2 linked regions of the Homo sapiens genome follow. The protein of the gene in region 2 purifies or fractionates together with the protein of the main gene of each other region. This does not show direct contact. Each region holds a gene or a part of one and is shown on either strand. Other genes may lie near its edges.

What was found.
Region 1: the proteins of FGF12 (region 2) and GPATCH2 purify together in Homo sapiens (affinity purification with mass spectrometry; one large-scale study listed by BioGRID and IntAct). This does not show direct contact.

What each region holds. Positions count from the first base shown.
Region 1 is NC_000001.11:217,605,831-217,611,135, forward strand, and holds part of GPATCH2 (G patch domain-containing protein 2), read right to left. Parts: intron 5,242-5,305; coding exon 5,059-5,241; intron 4,571-5,058; coding exon 4,491-4,570; intron 4,363-4,490; coding exon of another isoform or gene 4,330-4,362; exon of another isoform or gene 2,359-4,329; intron 1-2,358. UniProt on the Homo sapiens protein: Enhances the ATPase activity of DHX15 in vitro.
Region 2 is NC_000003.12:192,720,065-192,725,369, forward strand, and holds part of FGF12 (fibroblast growth factor 12), read right to left. Parts: intron 1-5,305. UniProt on the Homo sapiens protein: Involved in nervous system development and function. Involved in the positive regulation of voltage-gated sodium channel activity. Promotes neuronal excitability by elevating the voltage dependence of neuronal sodium channel SCN8A fast inactivation.

The sequences.
Region 1 (5,305 bases), on a different chromosome or scaffold from region 2:
GATTCTGGCATCATTATTCTGAGAAATATTATTCTGAATTGAGTTTAATGCACAAACTATGGAAATATAAGAGATTCGGGCTGAATCTCCTGGATAATAGCCTCCACATATCCCTTGAAATTAATGACCATTTGCTTCATTCTCCTAAAAGTGGGGAATAAGAGATGCTAGTTAGCTGGGTTTTAACAAACTGGTACTTTACTACGATGGCAACAGTAATTCCTCTCAACACAAAAATCTCAGGACTCTGTTTGCATGCACATGAGCATAATTAATTTAAAAAATCAGATAGGTTAAATAGATCAGGACCCAAATCTCCTGAACAGTATAGGTTCAGGAATAGCTATTAGGCCTTCTCCCTCCATCATTTAAGCTATTCATTTAGCTTAAATGATGGAGGGAGAAGGCCTATGTGCTCTGTGGTCAGGAGAAGAGTTTAGAGCAGTTTCTCAGTTTGCAATTAAGTTTTGAGATTTAGTGGAGTGGCTGTCAACCTAAAATTTATTTGAAACTATGATTCACAGACCATATTAAAGAAAGAGGCCAGTTCAAATATAAAAGAGGTATAAAAGAAACATAAAAGAATGCCATATAAAGTGCTTTAAATATTAAATGTAAAGGCAAATTTTATATAAAATATGAACAAGCCAGTTGCGGTGCTTCACGCCTGTAATCCCAACACTCTGAGAGGCTTGAGCCCAGGAGTTTGATACCAGCCTGGACAACATGGCAAAACCCCATCTCTACTAAAAATATAAAAATTAGCCAGACATGTTGGTGCACGCCTGTAGACCCTGCTACTCAGGAGGCTGGGGTGGGAGCATTGCTTGAGCCTGGGAGGTCACGGCTGCAGTGAGCCTTGATTGTGCCACTGCACTCCAGCCTGGGCAACAGAGCAAGACCCATCTCAAAAAAAAAGAAATACCAGAAAAGTTTAAGGTCCACAATTCTGCACTTTGACTCATGATACAAATGTTCTCTAAGTCCCAGCTATTGTGTTTAATATATCTAATAATAGTAACAATCATTTATTTAATATATATTATGCACCAGAGATGGTGCTGGGCCCATTATGCATACACAATCTCATTTAAAAACCTGACGACACTTATGCAAAAGTAAGTATTGTTGGTATTAAACAAAAGGAGGGAAGGAGGTTCAAAATCTAACTACAACTAAAAAGAAGAATCAGAGTGTGGATTCACAAAGGTCTGACTTCAAAATCTATAAATTTTCTGCAATATCACTTTGCTCTCTATAAAACTAAATACAGTCAATCTCGTTCCCATTGTGGATTCCATATTTTTAAGTCGGCCTGCCTGCTAAAATTTATTTGTTAACCCCAAAATCAATACTCACAATTTCTGACTTTTGTAGTCATTCAGTAACATGTACAGAGCAGTGAAAAATGTTGAGTTGCCCGACATACACGTGCATTCCTACCAGAGGTCAGTCAGGTGACTTTCTTCCTACTCGTTTAAACTATCATACTGTAAACATATGTCCCTTTTGTAGTCTAAATTAGTACCAGATTTTTTTTTGAATTGTTGTGCTTTTTGTGGGTGATTATTCTGTTTTAAATAGCCCCTTGTATAGTGCTGAGAAATGCCGTCTAGTGCTCCTAAGTGCAAGAAGGCTGGGATGTGCCTTATAGAGAAAAGACTTGATAAGCTTTGTTCAGCCGTAAGTTATAGTGCTATTGGCCATGAGTTCGATGTTAGTAAGTCAACAATATATATTAAATGTCTCTAAACACAAACATAAACAAAACAAGGTTATCTATTGATCAGTTGGTGAAAATGTTGTGACCAGAGGCTTCCAGGAACCTAACCCTGTCTTTCCCTTAGGAGCCATGATTCAGTATTCCCTAATTCAATGTTTTCAGCAAGTGTATAGAATACAGTTATGGCAAATAGTCAGAATCAACTATAATACAACTGAAAACTTTCCCCCAAAAAATGTTTACATTGATATTTCAGTAAAAGATTCTTCCTCTGTCATTTCCTTCAAAGATACTACATCATTATATTTATGCAGTCATCATTCATCTGCTTAAGAAACCTTTTGTTGGCCTTCTGTTTAATGGGTTGCAGCTCCATGTGTTTTACTTTGCTCAGAAAATTAATCTCTCTTAAAAACAATCTGGCTTTCCAGTGTGAAAGTTTAAGGCAATTAAATTTCACTTCTTATTACCAGATGTCATGGATACTGTGTAAAGATGACTGTTTTGTGAGATTATGATTTTTAAAACTAGATATTATAGTTATACATAATATAAACAGCATAAGCAACAACAACAACAATGAAAACTTAGCAAATGAAATCAGAGAAATAGCAGCACAAATTGGAACTCTTACCTTTCTTGCCCAAGTCAGAGATTTTATTGAAAAAAAAAAATTACAGTACTTAAAAATTCAAACAAGGACAATTCAGGGTTGAAAGAAAGAAAACCCGAAGGAGTCCATTGTCTTCAGTAAAGTTTTAAATACAAAAAACATAGACCAGAAAAACAGCTTATGGCCTAATGCACTAGTTCCATGATAAACACACATATATAGTATGTCTCCATCAAGTGAAACTTCATCACCTTTTTACAATTTAGAGAGGGAAAGCAGCTTTTAGTATGGTTAAGCCATGTATCATCAATACCATGAAGCTAGCCTATCAGTTGTAATAGCTTCTATAAAATACCACAGTGAGATTGCAATAAGCCTAGAAAATGGGCTACAAATCCCAGCTATGCTCAAGCAAGCAGTGAACCAAAAATAAAAATAGGTAAAACTGAACCAAGAACTAGATAGCATTCATCTAGATTCATGATTGATAAGGCAAAGTTCATAGGCCAAGGTTTTAAAGTGACTTATTCAGATCTAAAAGACAGTCATTATACAAAATAAAACAAAAGCATTTATGTAATTCAGAAAAAAAACATGAATTTTCACTCCAAAGACATAGCACAGAAAAGCTTACTTACAATTACCAACACCACACTATTGTACCTTTAAATATGCAAAGGTAAAGAGACTCAAAGTTGCATTTTACCATTTTTAATCTCTCCAAATTAGACAAGCAATCTAAAAGAAGATGTCACACATTCCTGTTTAATGCATTTGCTGAAATCTTTCAGACTTTAAAAACTTTAGGTAAAAGCAATGGCAACTTGAAGTTTCTTTTCCAATCATATTTAAGTTAGCCATTAAATGCTGAATTAACAATTAATCCATACAATAATATAAAAATACACATATTAAATCACATTGTTTTTCATTATTGAAGCTTAATAAAAATATCATTTTAATATAACCATTTTGAAGAACTCAAATGGCTGAACTTATTATAGTGTCTAAATTATACCATCAATAGAAACATTACATTTTCCCCCCAGTTGGTGAAAATGAGCTCATGCAAGTATTTCTGACACTCACAGTGACACATATGGTCTGCCATTCTAAAGATGTACAAGCAGCTCTCACTTTTAAACATGACAATATGATTCAGAATCACACAGCATTTGTTAAAAATACCAGCTTTCACATGTTTCATTAAGCTCTAAACCAAAATAATAATTTTGATGTGTTTCAGGTATCAGACAAAGCAGATAATTTAAAAGGTAAATGATTCTACTAGTGCAGACTAGTTATCACTGTGGCTAATTTAAAACGAGGATGATTTTTGCAGTACAATGAAAGCTATACTATAAAATACAATGAGTTTGCAATACAAGCAGATTACCCAAGTAGAAAGGAAGCTGAACAAAATACAAACTCCAGCAAAGATTATCAACCTTACCTACTACTCATCTTAGCCCTTGTTAAAATACCCTGAGTAAAATGCAAATATTTTAAATAATGCTGGTTATATAAGACTTCTCTAAAAATGAACCATAAATGTCAATGCATCATGATTTTTATTTACAACAGTCAGATATGTAAAAATTAATTCTTAATCAGTCACAATATAAACATTAAGGAATACTTGTCGATCTGGAAGTTTAAAATTTTCTAGCTTTGTTAGCATTTTGGCAAAGCAAGTATACATAAATGGATTCAATGTAAAAAAAAAACCATAAAAGAGAAAAATATATAATTTACAGTAGTTTCTATCCACCCTGGGCCAACCTAAATCCCTAGAAAGCCTCCCCAGTCAGGTTCACTTCTGACTAAAAGGAAGAATACCAGTCCTCCAGCAAAAACAGCCCCATCTTTTCATCAAAGAGGCTCTCACTTCAATGATATTCCTCCAGGGAAGAGGACAGGAGCCAGGTTCCCTCGAATGTCATTCCCCAGATGTTCAAAACGTAACTAATTTATTAGCATTAGAAGATTTGGTTTATAGGGGAATCTCACTGGTCCAGTTTGTAGCCTACAAAAAAATGGATTATTTTTAAGTTTAACATTAGAATATGAATAAAGGATGAGGATGTGGCTTTTTATTCCATAGAAATGGAAACATTTCCAAACATGACAATTACACAGAAAAAGTATGCCTACCATTGAAGTTGGAGTCCCTCCAGATTTTTTAATATTCTTTGAAGACATTCCATGAAGGCGACTGAGTCTAGCTTGGAAACCTGTAAAATCAAAGTACTCAATTTAGAAGTTTTCTATGATCACTGAAGCATAGAAGAAGAAGAGGATCCTATCAATAGAGAAAGAAAAGTAAGTTGGTGGTGGCGGTGAATGCCACGAATATTATTTGGGAAAATGCAAAACTCACACTTAAAAAAACTGAAGCAATGCCTAGCAAAGTACTAAGGCAGTCAGCACTTAACTAACCAGTGTTCAATCACTAGAGTAATAAATACCCATTTTCTTTTTTCCGAATTAACATTCTTATCATTTCAACATTTTCTCAATGAGCCTAGCAAGAAAGCAAGTCAATTTTTCTAATAATTTGAAAGCATGATAAATGTAGTAGCTATATTAGTGGCCAATATGTTTCTTTACAGCATCTTGTGTTTACATTCTCTAATTTCCACTTTATCTTATCCTCCTTGAATGAATATTCCTAGACTGACCTTAAACCCATTATATCTACCAGGGAGCCAGTGCTACTGACCTCTTCTGCTTGGGTGTGACATAAGGGGAAAAGAACCAGTTAAGATACTTTCAAAGACAGGATCTGGTACATTTTTGTCTAGCTCAGTAGGATCTTCCTTTTCCCACCAGGGCACAACTCCAGTGATACCACATGCTCCACCTGATTCCTTTTCGTAGAACCAGTCACTCTGTTCATCATCACCTGTGCAAATACAAGAAACCCCCCCCCACCAAAGACTCAGTTTTATCATCCAGTTACACAATTA
Region 2 (5,305 bases):
TATCTTCTGAACAGCCTCTGAAAGTTTCTGGATTCTTTTTCTGCAGTCTAGTCCCTTTGGGTTGCTTCTCAGGCTAATGGCCAATCCACAAACAAGAAAGAAACAAAAACCTAACCACAGAATGGCAGCATGCCTTTACTTCTATCACGTAGTTTAAAGTCCCACTTTCAATTATGTGTGCTTTTTCAATCATTAGTAATGGGGCTTGTTTCAGGTAAAAAGCCAGGCAGAGTATGCGCTAAAGAAAAAAGAAAAGATCTGTGAAGGGGCAACAGGTGTCCTTTGGGACTTCTGCCTAGGTGCCATCAGCAGCATCGCAGCAGTTAAATACCACGGCCTCCCTGGGTGGGAGTCTCACATTCCCAAAGACAAGGAGACAGAGACTATTTCAAAAAGTAACTGGAGAGATGAGAAAGCTAAAATTAGAACTATTGACATAGATCCTTAAAAAATCCTACCGTGCTCTGCATGCAAGGATGCTAATAAGGAGATGAGGAAGATGATGCTGGGGAAAATGGCATGTCATCTTAGCCTCAAACTCTTGCCATCTATTTTGCATATCTATTTTCAATCCCAAGTCTGTAGTACAGAAATGAAATCTCTCTTCTACACACACTCTCTTAACACTAAAGAGGGTGGTAATAAAAGACAAGGCCCAGGCAGTAGAAGTCCTATAGTGCTCCTGATAAAGAACACATGTATGTGTTATAGTTTCCTAGTAACCATCTTGGAGCTTATCGATGGATTCATAATTGAGGACATACATCATCACCTGAGTGTTTCTTAAATATCTGACTTGCAGGTATTACAGGATGTCTGGTGGTTCTGAGATGTACCCCGATTAAGACCATTGTTAGTGGCCAGAATTTACACAGTTTATGTTTTAAACCCATCCAAGGTGTAATACTTGACTCAATATATCTCCATCCCCAAACCCATAAGATGTAGAGACAAATTCAGGTGTTGGAGACGTTACTATTAAAACTGTAGAATAAGCACACAAGAAATCCCTTTTGGTAAAGTGAAGTTTTTGTGGGAGTTAATGAAGGGTGATTTATTGAGTGTCGTGCAGTATACTTGCTGCTAAAACTACAAAAATGGCAGAGGACCAATTTCTACCATCCAGGATCTCACAGTCTAGTGTAAAGAGAGATACAGCTAAAAATGATGAAAGTCAGATTATAATTCTAAAGAGTTCTAAATACTTTATTAGCATGAGTTTTATTTCATAATCATGATATTATGGTACAGCACTTGGGATGGGTATAAGAATTTTTATTTTGCAGAGAAACAGAGGTAAGATGAGTTGCCTAAGTCATTTAGTCTTTATGATCCTTTGTTTTGTTATCTATAAAATAAAGTTAAAATGCCAAATCACAGGGTTTTAAGGGAGATTGTATATATTAAAAGCCTTTTGAAAAAGTACAAAGTGTTTCACGAACGTTATTTATGGGTGTAAATATGTGACAAATCAGGAAACCCAATATTAAGAGATGCAATAAACCATTATTGGTCAATCAGTAGCACAAAACACCAAACCTAATAAGGTTGGTACTTCAAAAACTTAAAAGCACAAAAGAAAAAGGATAAGGGAATGGCAAGTAGGTTGGCCTCCCCCAGACCTATTACTGAGGGTAACAAGCCTCATAATAACCTAAAGCAAGAAACAGGTTAGGCAGGTAGCTAGTCAGGTGGAATAGCTTTTATAGTAGATACATAGCTTGAGTTCAAATGTTCTCCCACACAATAATTTTGTTTAAATAAACCAAAGGGGAAACAAAAGGCAGGAATTATTGCTGTGGAATGTTAAGTGCCTCTTTGGAGCTCATTAATCACTGTAAGACTTTATATTCTAGCCTCCCGGATAACCTACTAGAACTCTGAAAGATGAATGGAGAAGACACATAAAATGCTAGAAATCAACAGCTCTTGATCCTGTTCATATATCCCTACATTGTAAGCTTTTAGAGGGCAAGTCAATAAACTATTTATACCTCTGTCCCCCACATTTAATAATGTGCCTGGAACAATGTGGCAACTCGGTATTTTAAATTAAATGAACTGGACCCCCTTTGATATTTAAGAATCTTGAGACCCAAAGAGGAAAAGATTTGTCCAAATTTACACCATGACAGGTGGAGTAAGAAACTGTATTTCCTACACTCAGTGACTATACATCATGATTTTACTGAATTATGTTTTACTTATCTCACTATACTGGCTCAGTCTTTTATTATTGTTGTTGTTATTGTTTAACCACAAAATGGCTCTTCTTAAAATCGCTTTCCAGTTCTGATATACTAATGATTGCATAGACATTTCCTTTCTCTGCTGCAGAGTAAATCATCCTGGCTTCAGAGAAATGACTGTTCTATACCTTAAGTGTGTTGGTTCATGGCCCTGACTGAACTCTGATGGCTGGTATGAAATCTAGAACAAAGAATTGAATCTTCCTTGGAAATACATGTGCAGGTCTCTCTTGAGAGAGTGGGTCAAATTACTCCCTTCCATGTTCTGGAATCACACTGATGTTTCTGGGAGCCCTCCTGGTAGCTAAGTTTCCCACACTTCTCCCAACTTACAATCTTCTGGATCCATGAAGTTGGCCTAAAAAAACTAATTAAGGCTATCCAACGCATATAATTCGAATCCCTACTATGCAAACTTAAATATTCTACCTGAGATAGACACTTAGGTGGTTGCTGGAATGTTAAAGGCTCAGATTTTGCCCACGAGAAGGTTAATATATTAGTGAAGATAGAAGAGTGAAATTGTCAAGTTCAGAGATTGCATCTTAGTTTTCTTTCACATTCTCAGAAATAAGCACATTGGGTACATATCAGATGCTCAATAAATATTTGTTTAAATAAAAAGCACAAAAATTACAATGTTGACTGTAAGAAACGCAGTATGTGAGGGACAAACGAGTACTTAGGTCATAGGAATCTCAAAAGGGTTGAACAGAGAGGTATGACAATAGAAAAGGATAAAACTATATTCACTCTGTTTAGAAGTGCCTTGATTTAAGTAGTCAAATATCATCACATTACCATGAGTTAACAGCAGACTTTGTCAGGAGCTTAAAATGAATGTAGAGAATAAATATTTAGGGTAATTGGGGGTTGAAAGTAAGTGATTGGAGGATGAGCAGCAAGGGTATTTAAAAGTAAGTTTGTTTTCTGATCTAACTATGAGTTAGATCACGCAGTTTCTTTTTCATTTCATTTTTGTTGTATCCAAAAACAACCAGAAGACCTAGAACATGATCACATATCCATGAGCCTTCATAATGATTAGACAGATAATATCAAATCTTCTCTACTGAGGTGCCTGGAGTGGTGTCATTCATTCTCAGGTGCAATCAGTTCCCTGAGATCTACACCAGTGCTTCTTAAATGTTAAAGTGCATAGAAATGACCATTAGATTTTGTTGAAATCCAGATTTGATTTGGTAGATGTGGTGTAGGGACTGAGATTCTGCATTTCTAACAAGCTCCCAGGTGATGCAAATGCTGCTGGTCTGTGGACCACCAGCAGTAATGCCCTACATCAGTGGTTAACTCTGGCCATCCATTAGCATCACTTGGGAGCCATTTAAAACTACTTATGCCCAGATCCCACCCCAGAACTAATTAAACTCACATTATTAGGGGTATGGCCTAAGCATCTTTACATTTGAAAAGCTCTACAGGTGTTTCTATAGGTAGTATGCCAGCTTGAGGCTGGAAATCTACCTAGACAAAGAAAAATGTGATATAGGTGGGGGTCAGTGGGAGGTGAGAGTGTGTGTGTGTGTGTGAGAGAGAGAGAGAGAGGAGAGGAGAGGAGAGGAGAGGAAAGGGGAGGGGAGAATAGGGGAGAAAGGAGGGAAGAGGAAAGGAGGGGAGGGGAGGAGAGGAAGGAGGGGAGGGGAGGAGAGGAAGGGAGGGAGGGGGAAGGAAGAAAGGGAGGAAGGGAAAAGGGAGGGAGAAAGGGAGGAAGGGAAAGGGAGGGAAGAGGGAAAGAAGGAAGGAAGAAAGGAAGGAAGGAAGAAAGGAAGGAAGGAAAGAAGGAAGGAAGGAAGGAGGAAAGGAAGGAAAAAGCCTGTTTCCTCACTCCAAATCATGCTTCTCAAACATTAATGTGCATACAAATTGCCTAGGTACTTTGTCAAAATTCTAATTCTGACTCAATAGACCTGGAGTAAATATGGAGATTCTGCAGTTCTAAAAAATTTGTCTGCAAACCACATTTTGACTATCAAGAGTCTAAATCAGTGGTTTCCAAACACTGCTGTACATAGGGACCTCTAAAGGAAACATATATGCTTTTTTCTTCCACCCCAATATTCTAATTTCATTGGTATGCGGTGCCATCTCAGGATGAGTATGTTCAGAAAGTATGTCAGGTGATTCTAGTGTGCAGCAAACTTTGTGAACCACTCCTCTAAATACTAAACATTTTAACTCATTTAAGAATCTCAAGCCCTTAAGATACGCAAGGCACAAATTCCGTCAGAGCTGCTCGGACTGCGTACCAACCCAAATCTTTGAGACAATGTTAAGTACATGGTGCACAAAAATCGCTGAAATTAGATCATGAATTGAACCTCAGGTCAACTGATGTATTTTCCTCTCTTCTTTACCCTGTATGACAGGGAGTGATGCAAAGTTGTAAATAAGGAAGCAAAAATAAATTGATCTTATTTGTAAATAGCTGAAGTTCAACTTTCTGGATGCTGGACAAATGCTCTAAGAAAGGCTGTCAAATGCTAGAGGTAATGTGAAAGTTGTCAAGTGTTGGCGATGGGATTCAAGATTAAACAGGCCATTAGATCTGGGTATGGGATAGAGAACTCTTGAACCCTCAACTGAGTCACGCAATATGACTCTATCTTTAAAGAGTTTCTACTAGAAAAGTATTATATATACATACATTTGAGAATGTCTTCCTAGAATTAGATTTGAATCTGTTGGGGGAAGAAGTTTGTACACGGCAGCATAAAATGTGAAAGATGCACCAATTACAGTATTGCACAAATACACATTTCTCTTAATACACTCTTTTTGGCTGGAATAAAAATTTCAAGTTAGCTACCATCGTTAGCTGTGCCATTTGCACCAACTTAGAAAGTGAGGCCAATGTATAAGTAATTAGCCATTTTTAATCTGATTGCCAAGCAGCTAACACAGCTTCATTAAGAAAGTCCAGGAACTAACATGCATAAAGACTTTCATCATGTTTTTTTTTTTTTTCAGAGGCAATTATGGGACCTCTGCAAAATGACCACAATGTTGGCCTACAGCAAAAGTCTTCGTTGCCTTTG